Linked DNA regions of Homo sapiens: region 2 is linked to region 1. Evidence: fine-mapped expression QTL. Tissue or cell type: whole blood. Region 1 holds a variant in brackets; the other region holds the start of a gene. All regions are shown on one strand. Distances are between the middles of the regions.

Region 1 (8,106 bases):
AAAGAACCTTTGGATCAAATCCCGGACCCTTGATCCAATGGTTAGCTTCCCACAGTGGCAGACAAGTAGCCACCCAAACATTCTTCTTCCGTGTCTCTGCTGCTGGGTGACCTCTCTAGCAGCTCAGGGACTCTGAGGTCTCCCCTTTAGCAATGGGCTTTGCCCCTTCCTTTCCTTATTTGATGCTACAAGATCCCCTTCCCTGCCTCTTCCTGTCTTCCATACCTATTGGAGCAAACGATATTTGGCCAGGTAGACAGGTCCCAATTTTGTAAATAACAGATCCAGCTGTCTTGTATAGGTCACTTCATTTGTGTGATGTGTGTTGTGTCTAGCATGCTATCAAATTGGTTCATAGGCTGGGCACAGTGGCTCAGGCCTGTAATCCCAGCATTTTAGGAGGCTGAGGCAGGTGGATTACCTCAGATCAGGAGTTCGAGACCAGCCTGGCCAACATGGTGAAACCTCACCTCTACTAAAAGCACGGAAATTAGCTGGGTGTGGTGGCGTGCACCTGTAATCCCAGCTACTCTGGAGGCTGAGGCAGGAGAATCACTTGAACCTGGGAGGCAGAGGTTCCAGTGAGCAGAGATCATCCCGTTGCACTCCAGCCTGGGGAACAAGAGTGAAACTCCATCTCGGAAACAAAAATAAGACAAAACAAAACAAAACAAAACCAAAACATTGGCTTATAAATAAAAGAGCACTCATAAATTAAACAAATAGGACTAAATTTGTTAGTTTGAAGGGAATATTGTGACTTCTAAAATTTAACTTTAAGCTTTTTACTTAGATAAAATACTAATTTTCATAGGCTTTAGAATGGTTAAAATGGCTTTAAATGTTGAACTTTTTGTGTAGTTTAAAATCTTAAGATTGGCTGGGCATGGTGGCTAACACCTGTAATCCCAGCACTTTGGGAGGCCAACGCAGGCAGATTGCTTGAGCAGGAGTTTGAGACCAGCCTGAGTAACATGATGAAATCCCATCTCTACAAAAAATACAAAAATTAGCTGGATATGGTGGCATGCACCTGTAATCCCAGATACTTGGGAGGCTGACATGGGAGGATCGCTTGAGCCCAGGAAGTGGAGATTGCAGTGAGCTGAGACTGTACCACTCCACCCCAGCCTGGGTGACAGTGAGACCCTGTCTCAAAATCAATCAATCAATCAATCAATCAATCAATCAATCAATCTTAAAATTATAGAGTGGTTCTCATCTATAGAATGTCAATATCTGATAGTTCAGGATTCTTTGCTTTCTAAATTTATATATAATGTACCAGGGAAGATATATATTCTTTATTGTGAAAAAGAATAACTTGTTCAATTCAGAAATTATTAAAAGGGAGGTTCAAAATATAAAGGAATCTGCGAATAAAAAAGAGAGATATGTGGTGAGTTATGGATAGAAGACTTTTTTTTTTTGGTGGGGTGGAATATATATATTTTTAAATGATCTTGTGTAACGAGAAATCTTGTGTGGTAGATTCTTGTACTAGAATAAAGTCACTGGTGTTTGGGAGGGAGGTGACGTAGGATGGGTCAGAGGGTCCAGACATGTCATGGACGGTCTGTGTGGGCTGTGAGGGGCTCATGAAGGGGAATTTGTGAGGGGAGTTAAGTGTTTGACTAAGCTGGCTATGATTGATGGGAAATTGTTTGTGGTAGACTTTCTAGAAAATGATCTATGTGCCAAGCGCAGTGGCTGACACCTGTAATGCCAGTACTTTGGGAGGCCAAGGTGGGCAGATCACCTGAGGTCAGGAGTTCCAGACCAGCCTGGCCAATATGGTGAAACCCCGTATCTACTAAAAACACAAAAATTAGCTGGGCGTGGTGGTGTGAGCCTGTAATCCCAGCTACTCGGGAGACTGAGGAGGAGAATCGCTTGAACCAGGAAGGCAGAGGTTCGAGCAGTGAGCCAAGATCGTGCCATTGCACTCCAGCCTGTGTGACAAGAGTAAGACTCTGTCTCAAGAAAAGGAAAAGAAAAAAAAAAAAAAAAGCCTATGTGTTGAAACTGGGTTTTCTTTAGGTGTTCATTTGCTAAATTACCAGAACTTTTGCTTTTCCATTCTGTGATATATTTCTTTTGAAAGCTTTTCAAATTTGTGTAACTCTCTCCTTCAGCTTTTTCATCAGCTCCTGTGACTTTTTCTCCTGCAGTTCTGACAGTTGCTGTGATCTGATGCTAAAGTGTTTTCTTAGAGGTCTGCGGGACCAGTGTTTTTCCTGAATACAGCTTAATTCTATGCTCGTGGTTTTCCTTGAATATAACTTTATTTTTGGCTTTTAGTTTTTGACTCTCTTTTTCTTTTCTTTTTTTTTTTTTTTGAGACGGAGTCTCACTTTGTCACCAGGCTGGAGTACAGTGGCTTGATCTCGGCTCACTGCAATCTCTGACTCCCTGGTTCAAGCAATTCTCCTGCCTCAGCCTCCCGAGTAGCTGGGATTACATGCGCATGCCACCACGCCCGGCTAATTTTTGTATTTTTAGTAGAGATGGGGTTTCACCATGTTGATCAGGATGGTCTCAATCTCCTGACCTCGTGATCCACCCGCCTCGGCCTCCCAAAGTGCTGGGATTACAGGAGTGAACCACCACGCCTGGCCAGTTTTTGACTCTTATATTGCTTAAAAGGGCTTTGAGGGCTAATGAATACATGCCCACCTCCACTTCTATCTGGCCTAGAATGTTTAATTGGCTACAAGTCATTGGACTCTAAGTCTGCTGGCCAAAGAGAATCCCTCCCCCTGCCAAAAAAATGGAAAAAGTAACTCAGGCCATGACAGGAAACAGGGAGTCAGCTGCCTCACTATGCCTTTCCCTTGGAATTTAGGCCAGGTTCAAAAGGTCTTTAAAAATTTTGAAAATAAAGTATTGGCCTTTCCCACAGAGAAAAATAAATAGCTCCTCGGTTCAATCAGAAGACTTAGTGTTACTAAAAACTTCAAAAAAAGATCCCCTGATCATCAGTTAAAACCAAAATGGAAGGGCCCCTTCAGGTATTGATAAATACTGTCACTGCTGTTAAGCTTCAGAGAGTCACTAGCTGTGTACACCTGTCCAGGATTAAACCTGTGTCTTATGAGTTCCCCATGGGCATAAAAGGAGCACACCACAACCTACATTTATGAACCTAGAAACTTAAGGCTGTTGTTTTGCAAGCACATAGATAAATAACAGGATGCTGTGGGTGGGGGTAGGAGCATTAATTTTTCTCTTCCTCCTAATTGTAATTTTCTTGTTTAGCCTCCCTCGTAAACTTTGTATCTTCTAGATTCCACATAAAGATGATGCCAGCACAAGGCTTCCAACTCATCCGGTCTTTGGACCTGGAAAAGAAAAACATCCTGCCATTGGGCCTCTTAGGTCAGGTATCCAGAGACTTTTACACTGCCAATACTAGGCGGGGTCTATGCCCATAAAATCAGCAAGAAGTAGTTACAGAAGATGGACCTTCACCCCTCTGCAGCCCCCTTAAGATTAGGAGGCTTTGGCCAGACACAGTGGCTCATGCCTGTAATCCCAGCACTTTGGGAGGCTGAGGCAGGTGGATCAACTGAGGCCAGGAGTTCGAGACCAGCCTGGCCAAGATGGCAAAACCCCATCTCTACTAAAAGTACAAAAATCAGCCGGGTGTAGTGGTGCTCGCCTGTAATCCCAGCTACTTGGGAGGCTGAGGCAGGAGAATTGCTTGAACCCAGGAGGCAGAGGTTGCAGTGAGCCGAGATTGTACCACTGCACTCCAGCCTGGGCAACAAGAGCAAAACTCCATCTCAAAAAAAAAAAAAAAAAAAAAATCAGGAAGTGTATCTAATTTCTAAGGGGGAAGTGAGGTAGGAGACTGATAGGACTTGTTTTCTGGTCACAACCCTGCTGACGAAAATAGGATCTAGTTCAGACAGGATAATGTGAAGAAACTGGCCAAAACCAGCAGATGGCAACAAAAG[T/G]GCTCCCTACCTGCCCTCCTTGCTTATTAGTGTGAGACACTCCCACTAGTGCCATGACAGTTTATAAATACCATGGCAATGACCCAGAAGTTACCATCCCTTTCCAAGAAGTTCTAAATAACCCATCTCATTTTGCATTAACCTTTCCTTAATTTGCATATACTTAAAAGTGGGCATAAGTGAGTATAAATACAGTTTCCAAGTGCCCATATGTTGCTGACTCTGGGTGCACTGCCTATGAATTCGCCCTGCTCTGCAAGAAGCAGTACCATTCAATAAAAGATTGCTGTCTAACACCACCAGCTCATCTTTGAATTTTTTCCTGGGTGAGGTCAATAATTCTCCAAGGCTAAGCCCCAGTCTAGGGGCTGTTTGGTGGATCATTGAGCCCAGCAGTTTGACACCAGCATGGACCACATGGCGAAGCCCCATCTCTACAAAAAAAATACAAAAACTAGCCAAGTGTGGTGGTGCATGCCTGTAGTCCCAGCTACTTGGGAGGCTGAGGCAGGAGGATCACCTGACTACAGGAGGGTCGAAGCTGCAGTGAGCCATGATCGTGCCACTGCACTCCAGCCTGGGCGACGGAGTGAGATGCTGTCTCAAAAAAAAAAAAAAAAAAAAAAGTGGCCGGGCAGGGTGGCTCAAACCTGTAATCCCAGGACTTTGGGAGGCTGAGGCGGGCAGATCACCTGAGGTTAGGGTTCAAGACCAGCCTGGCCAACATGACTAAACCCCATCTCTACTAAAAGTACAAAAATTAGCCGGGCGTGGTAACATGTGCCTGTAATCTCAGCTATTCAGGAGGTTGAGGCAGGAGAATTGCTTGAACCCGGGTGGTGGAGGTTGCAGTGAGCCTATATCGTTTCATTGCACTCCAGCCTGGGCAACAAGAGCGAGACTCCATCTCAAAAACAAACAAAAAAAAAAAAAAAAAAAAAAAAAAAAAAAGGAAAAGAAAAAAATGGATAAGGGAATCCTTGTGCTAAAGGGTGTCAGAGACAATCTGAGAGGTAAATGCTACGCTATGGACTAACAGTAAGGGGAAAAGAAGATGGTAAATTTGCAGAGAAGATCAAGTTTGATCAGTTTCCTGGCCTGAAGGTAGGACAATGACAAAGGCTCATTTTAGGGGCTTCTGGTATACAAAGGTGTAGGGGCACTACAAAAAAGTCATTCTGACACTTGTTGAAATGCTATAAGGAAGACTTTATTTAAGACTATTGCAATAGGAGAGAGAGATCAGGCTCAACTCTGAACACAGCTTGGACAAATGGATACTTATAGTCAAGGAGCAGAGTGACGGGGTTGGTGGGTGAAAAATTACTAGGAGGAGACATCAAGGGTAGAGAGATTCTTGCTAAACTGAACTAGCAGGATTCTCACTGAAGGAAAGCCAAGGACTTAGACATCAAAGGTGGAGGATGAGGAACTTGCTCAGGTATCAGTGGTGATCAGACCACAAAATGGAGGGAATTCTCCCTAAACTGACTTAGCAATATTCTTGTTCATACTGGGCTAGGCAGGCCAAAGACAGGACAGGTGCCAAGGTCTTAGTGGAGTCTAAGTGGAGAAGAAGGCTCAGAGGAGCATGAGTCAGGTTTGGTCAAGGAGAGGGTCTTTGTTGGAGGGGGAAATTAAATGGTGTGGAGGGGAATTTTAGATGGTTCAACAAGGAGGCAATGTAGTGAGTGGCAGCATGGGAGAACTGAGGCTGGAGAAGTTCTCAGCCCATGCTGTTGCCCCTGTTTTGCCCCTTCCCTCCCTCTCTCCCACAGGAGCAGTTGACTGGCTGCCTCTTGCTGTGGTTCCTGTGAAAGGCGGCTTTAGTTTGGATCTTCAGTGGGGTAAGGGGCTCTTGTTCAGAATAGAGGCTTCCAAATATGCATGAACGGAAGTAACACAAGCAAAATGCATGGGACACAGTAGGTGTGCAATGCCTATGGGTCCTCTTCTCTTTCTCCCACTGCTCCCTTTTCAGTGATGGGCCCAGAAAAGCTATAGTTCTATACCCTGTACACATGCTCGTCTCTCACTTTGAGGAAGAACAATTCCCCCAAACACTTTTAAAAAAACAGTAACATCTAGCAATAAATTAACAACTGGCAATGAACTGTTTCCTGCAATTTAAATTGTTTCTGAATGCAGTGTCATTAGGTCCTGGCTGTAGGCTCTTAGGGACTGCACACCTGGAAGGCTGCTGGGCAGAAGTGTCATAACCCATACCCCCAGCTCTTCCTTCTCTCAAGTGTCACAATCGTTTTGAACTATTTGGAATTTCCACCTATTCCCCCAAATTGGCAGCCTCTCCTGACTTTTATAGCTTTTGAATTTTGTACAAAGTGCATGTGTTAACTATTTAAATTTTTATATTTTCAAAAAACGATGATCTCTGTTACAGCAGCTAAAGTGGATTTTCCCCACCCCAGTAACTCACCACATTTCCCTATTTTATCTTCTTAGTAGTACTTGCCAGCATATTGTTTTTATACTGTGCCCAGTCTCCCTCCACTAAACCATAATCTCCTCCAGCCAATACTCTGACTTGTTCTCTATGAAATCTCTAATATCTAGAGTATTTATTTTCCTTCCTTTTCTCTTCTCTTCTTTCTTTTTTTTCTGTTAGTATCTTATTTAGATTTGTAGATTGAGATGCCTTCATACAATGTTTTAGAGATTTTTAGTGGTTTTTTTCCTATAGCCTGAAAGAGTTTACATAACAGAAATTATCTATTCATAAAGCAATGCTACTCAAAATGTGTTCTGCAGGCACTAAAGTATAAATCAAACATACTATTTAGCTCGAATGTACTATTTAGCTGAGTTTTGTTTTTTGTTTTTTAGCAAAGACTTTGTTGATGAAGGAAGCAATATACTGATTTATGTTCCAGTGCAAGCTCCTTAACTTTTTGCGGGCTGGTAGCAAACAGTTCTGTAACCAGCTGAGTAGCACTGCGGTAAAGGGTAACAGAATACAGATACAAAACCACCAGAGACTGGTGCTTTTTCAACTGTTAGATTTAAATTGCCTTTCTAGTCTCTTCCGTGGGCATTGATCTGTTTAGATTTTCTTCCTTTACTTGGCTCAATTTTGCTAAGTTATATTTTACTAGAAAGCTATCAATTTCCTCTATTTTCAGATACATTTCTAGAGTTGCACAGAATAGTTTCTTTTAGTTCTCTTTATCTCTTCCATATCTGTTTTGGATCCTCAGGAGTAAATAGAGGAACATGCAGTAAAAAAAGATTGAGAAAAGATGCAAAAAGATTAGAGTGCAACCAGGAAAGGTCAGTATTATTCTAGTCACTGGAGATGCAAAAATATGCAAATTCTCGAGGGGCTTCATATTTTATCTCTTTTAATTATCCTGAAATAGTTTTATTATTAATTGCTTTTTGAAGAAGTAGATATTGCCTATTAAATTATCTACTTAGAGACTGGTCAGAGTTTCATGTTCTTTTTTTGTTACTTGTTTTGTTTCAAAATTTTTTATTTAATTATTTTTATTTTTATTTTACAGGTGCCCACCACCATGCCCAGCTAATTTTTGTATTTTTAGTAGAGACGGGGTTTCACCATATTGGTCAGACTGGTCTCAAACTCCTGACCACCAGGTGATCCACCCGCCTCAGCCTCCCAAAGTGCTGGGATTACAGGCGTGAGCCACTGCACCCAGCCTTCATTGTTATATGTTCATTATATCACTTATAATGTATTATGTTTATAACATATAATGTTTGTAAGTATTATTGATAGGTTTGGCTGTGTCCTCACCCAAATCTCATCTTGAACTGTAGGTCTCATAATTTCCACATGTCATGGGAGGGAGGGGGACTCAGTGGGAGGTAATTGAATCACGGGGGCGGGTTTTCCCATGCTGTTCTAGTGATAGTGAATAAGTCTCATAAGATCTGACGGTTTTACAAAGGGCAGTTCTCCTACACATGCTCTCTTGCCTGCCACCATGTAAGACGTGCCTTTGCTTCTCCTTCACCTTCCACCATGATTGTGAGGCCTCCCCAGCCATGTAGAACGGTGAGATTAAACCTCCTTTCTTTTATAAATTACCCAGTCTGGGGTATTTCTTCATAGCAGTGTGAGAACCGACTAATACAATTATGTTCTTGATGTTCATTCAAGTATAAA
Region 2 (8,106 bases), 200 kb before region 1:
CCTGGCTGTCTCTCCTCCCCTTTGTCTCCCACTGATCCTCAACACAGCTCATGGCTGAGAACTTCTGATTGAGAGATTTATACAAGAAATTGCATTCCTCAAAGTAAGTGATTATTGAGGGAAAAAAAAAGGAAAACCATGAAAAAAACCCCAATGCACCCTACTTGCTTATATGTGCGTAGAATATCTCTGGAAAAATGTCTAAGAAACCAATGGTGTGAGCTGTTTCCCAGGGAGGGTCTGGCATGGCTGGAGCACTGCGGTGAAAGGAGAACGTCCTTGATGCTCTACTCTTTTGTACCTTCAGAATTTTGTATGGATGGCTTGAAAATAGAAAGAAATAGAATTTGATTTTTAAAAGAGGCAGTCCCTGGAAAAAAGTTATTAATTTGCATATTGCAAGTTGAGAAAGTGAGAGACCAGAGCAAGAGGAGGTCACAACAAGATAAAAAGGTGGGGGCCGTTATGGAGCCCAGGGAAAGGAGGGCTGGACAAGAGACTCCGTCCATGTTTCTCTAGCACTTTCCAGGAGAATAAAGCTCTTGTTCTAGCACTCTCCTCCTTTGGACCTATCTGTAGAGAGCAGAAAAGTGACCACGAGGCTCTGTTGCATGATAAACAACCCCTTAAAAACCACCAACTTTCCATGGTCTTCCAGCAACCCATTTGGATGTCGTCCCTACAGTTGACTCCTTCAGTCCCTGTGTGTGTCCTCTGCGTGCCCCTGGCCCCCTGCCTTCCCTTAGCTGTGCTGCACAGAAAACCGCCCCAGCTCTTGGGTCAAACAGATCCCATAAGAAACATCAGAAGAAGCATCCTGGCTTACAAGTTATTTTTTGGTGAGTGCAATGGGCGTGCCGTGCTCCTCCAGGCCTGACCACCTGTATGAGAGTTGGCAGGAGGACATTTCTAAACTCACACTCTTAGGGCAGTAGAGATGGGGCCTAAGACCTTTGTCTCTCCTGGTATCAGTGAGCCCCGTGTAGCCCCTTTTCCTTATTCCAGGTCTGGAAGCTGCAGTCACAGACACACAAAGGTGCTGGGGCTTGCACATTCACCAGCGTCACTTTCTCCAGCCACACCACTACGTTTGAGGGCTCTCCTGTCCTTCTCTAACAGAACTAGTCTGGGACTAGACGCCAGGCTTTGGGCTAAGTACTTGATGTGTCTTCACTTATTAAATCCTTCCAATAACCCTTCAAGTTAGGTACCATTATTATCGTCATCAACCTCATTTTATAGAGAAGGAAACTGAGGTGCAGAGAAATTCAGGTTGAGGTTCACAGCAAATAAGCAGTGGAGGCCAAGTGTGCCCCCAGGTGGACCCAAATCAAAGCCACACTGTTACCTTCTGCTCTGCGCTGCCTCCCGGGGCAGTAGCCCTCGTGAGCCTCCCCACGTTGGGGTGTCTAATGAAAAGCTTCCCTGCTGGTTGAGCTGAAGGGGTCAGGGTCGGGGCTGTACAGAGAAACTCAGGCCACAAGGGCCTTTGGGCAGAACTGGGGTCACAAAGTAATCATGGTTTCCCAGCGAACACAAGACTTTGGCCCTCAGGCAAGGCTCCTTGATGTCTGGGGGAGCCTGTGCCCCCCAGCAGTGCTCACAGATCCACCCCTGACTGCCAGCCGGCCCCTTGATGGCGGTGCCTGTCTCAGATTCTGTGGTCAGTGCCACGCAGCTACCTCCAGAGGCAGCCTGCAGCCTGGCCATGTGGCCCCAAGCTCCAGGCTAGAGGCCAAGGGGAGTGTCCCTTCTCTCTCTGTGTCACCCAGGGCATAGGTCACCCAGGCAGCCTGGCATGGTGCCTCCAAGCCACTGTGCTAATGCTTCTACAGCTTCTGCTCCCTCCCTGCCTCCATGGGGCCCAAACCTAGCCCTGGTGCTGCTCTGGGAACTGGGTCAGAGCAGCACCCCAGCTCCCCCACCCCCAGGAGCCCCTCAACCTTGGCCTGCTGTCATCCTCGTCCGGCCCCAATCTTCCTGCAAATCGGGCCCTTGCAGGATTCCTGCTGACTCAGCAGCTGGGCCCGGACAGGACTTAGTCCCAGCGTGAGCCGATCCCGCTGCAGTTTGGGCGAGAATGACAAGCCCTCCACCAGACGATTCTTTATTGCTCTGAGACTTCCCTGGGATAATTCCACCCCCAGGAGCACTCTATCTGTTTCTGTCTCCTCCCCACACACCCCCTGGCCTTGAAAAAGGATGATCACTGACCACAGGCACTGAAAAGAGCAAACCAAGAGCAGCATCAATACCCTCACACAGTGGTGCACATAACACACTTTGAGTTTCTGACTTTTCCTAATCAGTTCTTCCTGCTAAAATACAGTAGCTTAACAAAAACAATGACAACAACAATCTGGTGTTTGCCATTTACAAGGCACTTTCTGTGTGAGTAGCATGACATGGTAAAAGAGAAAGAGATGAATTATAAAACGCAGCAAGATCATGAGTCAATGATTCACCCTGTCCCAGCCTGCTTCTTTTTTTTTTTTTTTGAGACAGAGTCTTGCTCTGTCACCAGGCTGGAGTGCAGTGGCGCGATCTCAGCTCACTGCAACCTCCGCCTTCCGGGTTCAAGCGATTCTCCTGCCTCAGCCACCCGAGTAGCTGGGACTACAAGTGTGCGCCACCATGCCCAGCTAATTTTTGTATTTTTAGTAGAGATGGGGTTTCACCATGTTGGCCAGGATGGTCTCGATTTCTTGACCTTGTGATCTGCCCGCCTCGGCCTTCCAACCGAGCCTGCTTCTTTTCTTGTAAAATGGAAGAGTCATAACATCCAACTTGAGTCTTGATATTTTAATGAAATAATGCATGGGAAAGCAGAAAACAGCACAAAGATTACTGGTTATAAGAGCTAAATCACTGTGACTCCATATCCAAATTCAATACCTACTGAATCAGTGGTTTCTGACTAGTCAATTTTTTTTCTTTTTTTCTTTTTTTTTTTGAGACAGAGTCTCGGCTGGGTGCAGTGGCTCACACCTGTAATCCCAGCTCTTTGGGAGGCCGAGGCGGGCAGATCACTCGAGATTAGAAGCTGGAGACCAGCCTGGCCAACATGGCAAAACCCTGTCTCTACTGAAAATAAAAAAATTATCCAGGCATGGTAGCACGTGCCTGTAATCCCAGGTACTCGGGAGGCTGAGGTGGGAGAATTGCTTGAACCTAGGAGGCGGAGGTTGCAGTGAGCCGAGATTGTGCCATTGCACTCCAGCCTGGGCGCCAGAGCGAGACTCCATCTCAATTAAAAAAAAAAAATAGGAGAGAGACAGAGTCTCACTCTGTCTTCTAGGCTGGAGTGCAGTGCTGTGATCTCAGCTCACTGCAGCCTCCACCTCCTGGGCTCATGCAGTTCTTGGGCCTCAATCTCCCAAGTACCTGGAACTACAGGCACACATCACCATGCCTGGTTAATTTATTATTTTTTGTAGAGACGTGGTTTCACCATATTGGCCAGGCTGGTCTTGAACTCCTGAGCTTGAGCGATCCTCCTGCCTTGGCCTCCCAAAGTGCTGGGATTACAGGCATGAGCCCCCATGCCCGGCGACTAGCCAATTTTTTAAAAATTACATTTTCTAGAGGTGTCATTTTTACTGGGAAAAACACAGTGACACCATTCAAGAAAAAATTGAACGGTAACTTTAATCACTACATTAACACAATTTTAAAGGTTGATCTGCATCATACATACCTTTTAAAGAATGTTTTCATCATATGTAGACAGCTTTTTTTGTTTTTTGTTTTTGTTTTTGTTTTGAGGCAGAGTCTCGCTCTGTCACCAAGGCTGGAGTGCAGTGGTGTGATCTGGGCTCACTGCAACCTCCGCCTCCCGGGTTCATGCCATTCTCCTGCCTCAGCCTCCCAAATAGCTGGGCCTACAGGTAGGTGCCACCACGCCCAGCTAATTTTTGTATTTTTAGTAGAGACGGGGTTTCACCATGTTAGCCAGGCTGGTCTCGAACTCCTGACCTCGTGATCCACCCACCTCAGCCCCCCAAAATGTTGGGATTACAGGCCTGAGCCACCACGCCTGGCCATAGGCAGCTTTTAAAAGAACACATGTGCAGCCTGGCCATCATGGTGAAACCTGTCTTTATGAAAAATACAAAAATCAGCTGGGCATGGTGGCACCTGCCTATAATCCCACTTGCTTAGGAGGTTGAGGAGGGAGGATCGCTTGAGCCCTGGAGGCGGAGGCTGCTGTCCAGCCTGGGCGACAGAGCAAGACTCGGTCTCAAATAGAAAACAAAACAAAACAACAACAACAACAACAACAAACCATGTGTGATTCCAAGCAAATCAGAGAATCTCTAGCCACCAGAAAAACCTTGAGGCATGTACTGAAAGGAAGAGGTCAGAATTCTCTGCGAGGAGCTCAGAGGATCCTGAGGGAAGAGAGAAGGCGGCTGCGCTTGGACACAGCTCCGAGCTCGTGCTCCCTCCTTCAGGCACCCAAGTCTGAGTTGCTAAAAAATGGAGCTGTCACTGGGCCTTGCTCTGCCAGGACCTGCAGAGCCGGGGACCTCTCTGTGGCAAGCCCAGCAAGATGACTGCTCTGAGGCGCCCTAGGGCTGAGGGAGGGGCCGTGACACCAGCCCCGCCCCCCAGCCACCTGGGAAAAGGAAGCACAAAAAGGAGAAGCAGCAACGGCTGCTCTGCTTCCTTCCCATCTCGCTCTTGGGTCATGCCTGGCCAGCAGAAAGCAGCTCCATAGGGGAGGAGAGCCACGCAGGATCTCACAGCTGCAGTCTAATAGTAACACAGAGGTAATTTTAACTTTTTACTTTTCTACCCTTGGGAGTAGGGATGAGTAGAGGCTTACCTCCTTCCAGAGGCAGCTCATATCCCCCCACCCCCATTCCCGGAAGTTGAGATGTCTCTTCTCTGTTCCACGCAGGCATCGTCTAAGTTGGGAACAGGTCTTATGTCTTAAAATTTGGGATTCTTTAAAAACATATGTGGCTGGGCACAGTGGCTCACGCCTGTAATCCCAGCACTTTGGGAGGCCGGGCAGGTGGATAATTTGAGGTCAGGAGTTCAATACCAGCCAGGCCAACATGGTGAAACCTCGTCTCTAATATAAATACAAAAAGTAGCTGGGTGGTAGTAGTAGCTGTAATCCCAGGTACTCGGGAGGCTGAGGCAGGAGAATCCCTTGAACCTAGGAGGCGGAGGTTGCAGGGAGGCAGAGGTTGTGATGAGCCAAGATTGCACCACTGCACTCCAGTCTGGGTGACACAGTGAGACCCTGTCTCAAAACAACAACAAAAATGTGTGATGGCACATGCCCATAGTCCCAGCTACTGGGGAGGCTGAGGTGGGAGGATGGCTTGAGCCTGGGAAGTCGAGGCTGCAGTGAGCTGTGATCATGCCACTGCAGTCCAGCCTGGGCGACAGAGTGAGACCCTGTCTCAAAACAAAACAAAACAAAACAAAACAAAAAAACCCAAAAACAAACAAAAAAGCACATGTGGAGTGTTGTAGAAGTCATTGACCTTGGTAAGACAGTGGAGGAAACTGCTTTGCTCTGACTCATAAATTTGCCCCCAGTAAACAGTATTTATAAATAGCCCCAGTCAGGCACTGCATGAAGACATTTCAGTCAACGACAGACCACATATACAACGGTGGTCCCATAAGATTATAACAGAGCTGAAAAATTCCTATTTTTCAGCTTAGTGTTGTGGTGCAACCACTACCTTTTCTATGTTTAGATACACGAATACTTAGCACTGTGTTACAATAGCCTACAGTACCCATTACAGGAATGCTGTACCGGTGTGTAGCCCAGGAGCAATGGGCCATACCATATAGCCTAGGTGTGGAGTAGACTAGACCATCCACGTTTGTGTAATTACAATCTATGATTTTGTAAAATGATGAAATTGCCTAATGAAGCATTTCTCAGAATGTGTCCCCGTCATTAAGTGACACCTCACTGTGTTTCCAAGACATAGTACTGGTCCTTGGGAAGCTCTAAAGAGAGGTCACCGTGAGCTGAACCATCCTTCTCACTCTGTGCATGGAACCCAGCTTAGCTTCCATTTCAGCATTTAGGCTTATAGGAGGAGAAGAGGTTAGAAGCCACAGACCAGCAAGAATTGAAGACATCGTTCTGTAATTTCTACTGAACCAGCTCTGTCTGACTGGAACTTCATTTTGCCTCTTTGCTTTAACTCCTCAGGAATGTCTTCCAGGAGGCCCCTGATCTTCTCTGCTCAGGGACCACTCTTATCTGACCCAGAGACAGGTTAGCTGATGGTGACTCACACATCCTCACTTCCTTCAAAGCCCAGGCATCTGTTTAAAATCTGACCCTGTGAAGACTTTTCCTGTTTTGGAAAAACTCTTCCGTTGTTTGCCTGCACAGATTTGTGCTCCATTTTTAATTTCAATTTTTGTAGAGAAGGCGGGTCCTTGCTTTGTTGCCTCGGCTTGTTTGAAACTCCTGGGCTCAAGTGATCCTCCTGCCTTGGCCTCCCACAGTGCTGGGATTACAGGTGTGAGCCACTGCACCAGGATGGATTTGTCTTCCTTCAGAAGACAGTAGCTGATGTGTGCCCTGGCCTTTCTCCCCTAGGATTCAGCAGTGGCCACCATGGGTTCTGTGAATTCCAGAGGTCACAAGGCGGAAGCCCAGGTGGTGATGATGGGCCTGGACTCGGCGGGCAAGACCACGCTCCTTTACAAGCTGAAGGGCCACCAGCTGGTGGAGACCCTGCCCACTGTTGGTTTCAACGTGGAGCCTCTGAAAGCTCCTGGGCACGTGTCACTGACTCTCTGGGACGTTGGGGGGCAGGCCCCGCTCAGAGCCAGCTGGAAGGACTATCTGGAAGGCACAGATATCCTCGTGTACGTGCTGGACAGCACAGATGAAGCCCGCTTACCCGAGTCGGCGGCTGAGCTCACAGAAGTCCTGAACGACCCCAACATGGCTGGCGTCCCCTTCTTGGTGCTGGCCAACAAGCAGGAGGCACCTGATGCACTTCCGCTGCTTAAGATCAGAAACAGGCTGAGTCTAGAGAGATTCCAGGACCACTGCTGGGAGCTCCGGGGCTGCAGTGCCCTCACTGGGGAGGGGCTGCCCGAGGCCCTGCAGAGCCTGTGGAGCCTCCTGAAATCTCGCAGCTGCATGTGTCTGCAGGCGAGAGCCCATGGGGCTGAGCGCGGAGACAGCAAGAGATCTTGATCCAGACAGAGCAGCATATCTTTGCTCATACAAACTAGAAGAACCAGCTGATCCTTGAGAAATTTACGCTTAGTCTATCAAACAAGAAATGCTGGCTTGGCCCGGTGGCTCATGCCTGTAATCCCAGCACTGTGGGAGACCACGGTGGGGGAATCCCTTGAGCCCAGGAGTTGGAGAGCAACATCACAACACCCCATTTCTACTAATAATCAAAAAATTGGCCGGGCATGGTGGCATGTGCCTGTAGTCCCAGCTACTTGGGAGGCTGAGGCAGGAGAATCGCTTGAGCCCAAGAGGTAGAGGTTGCAGTGAGCCAAGATCGCGCCACTGCACTCCAGTCTGGGCAACAGAGTGAGACCCTGTCTCAATAATAATAATAATAATAATGATGATACTCTAAGAAAAAAATCTCAACATACTTCATTTAATAGCTCGTTACCAAGTGTGAATGAAGCAATATGTCATAATAGAGTAGCCACTGGTTGCATAATAATAGAGACCTAAATTCTCAAATAGGGAAAGAGGTTTTAAAATCAAATTTGAGGCCAGGTGCAGTGGCTCATGGGCGGAGGAGGGCAGATTACTTGAGGCTAGGAGTTCAAGACCAGCCTGGCCAACATGGTGAAACCCCATCTCTACTGAAAATACAAAAATTAGGCATAGTGGTGCACGCCTGCAGTCCCAGCTACTCAGGAGGTTGAGGCAGAAGAATCGCTTGAACCCAGGAAGTGGAGGTTGCAGTGAGCCGAGATTGTGCTGCTGCACTCCAGCCTGGGTGAAAAAGACAGGCTGTGTCTCCAAAAAGAAAAAAAAAAGTCAAATTCAAATATCATCTGGACATGTCACAATGGATCGCGGATCCTTATGAGTGATTTTCCCCAGTGGCCCCTGGGGATGTGCCACTGTCACTC

The links. PIP is the estimated chance that this variant, and not a neighbour inherited with it, causes the effect.
Region 2: ARL11 starts here. The variant in region 1 is fine-mapped to the expression of ARL11 in whole blood (TOPMed, PIP above 0.99).

The regions. Positions count from the first base shown.
Region 1 is chr13:49,824,752-49,832,857 of GRCh38, forward strand. No RefSeq gene overlaps it. Among named protein-coding and RNA genes, the nearest start is that of KPNA3, 36 kb to the left of the region's middle. The variant T/G (reference allele first, on the strand shown) is at 3,960.
Region 2 is chr13:49,623,844-49,631,949 of GRCh38, forward strand. It overlaps ARL11 (ARF like GTPase 11), which reads left to right and starts at 4,664. Exons shown (of 2, transcript NM_138450.6): 1 at 4,664-4,772; 2 at 6,587-8,106. The coding sequence starts at 6,605. The coding sequence ends at 7,195. RefSeq lists an enhancer at 4,916-4,965.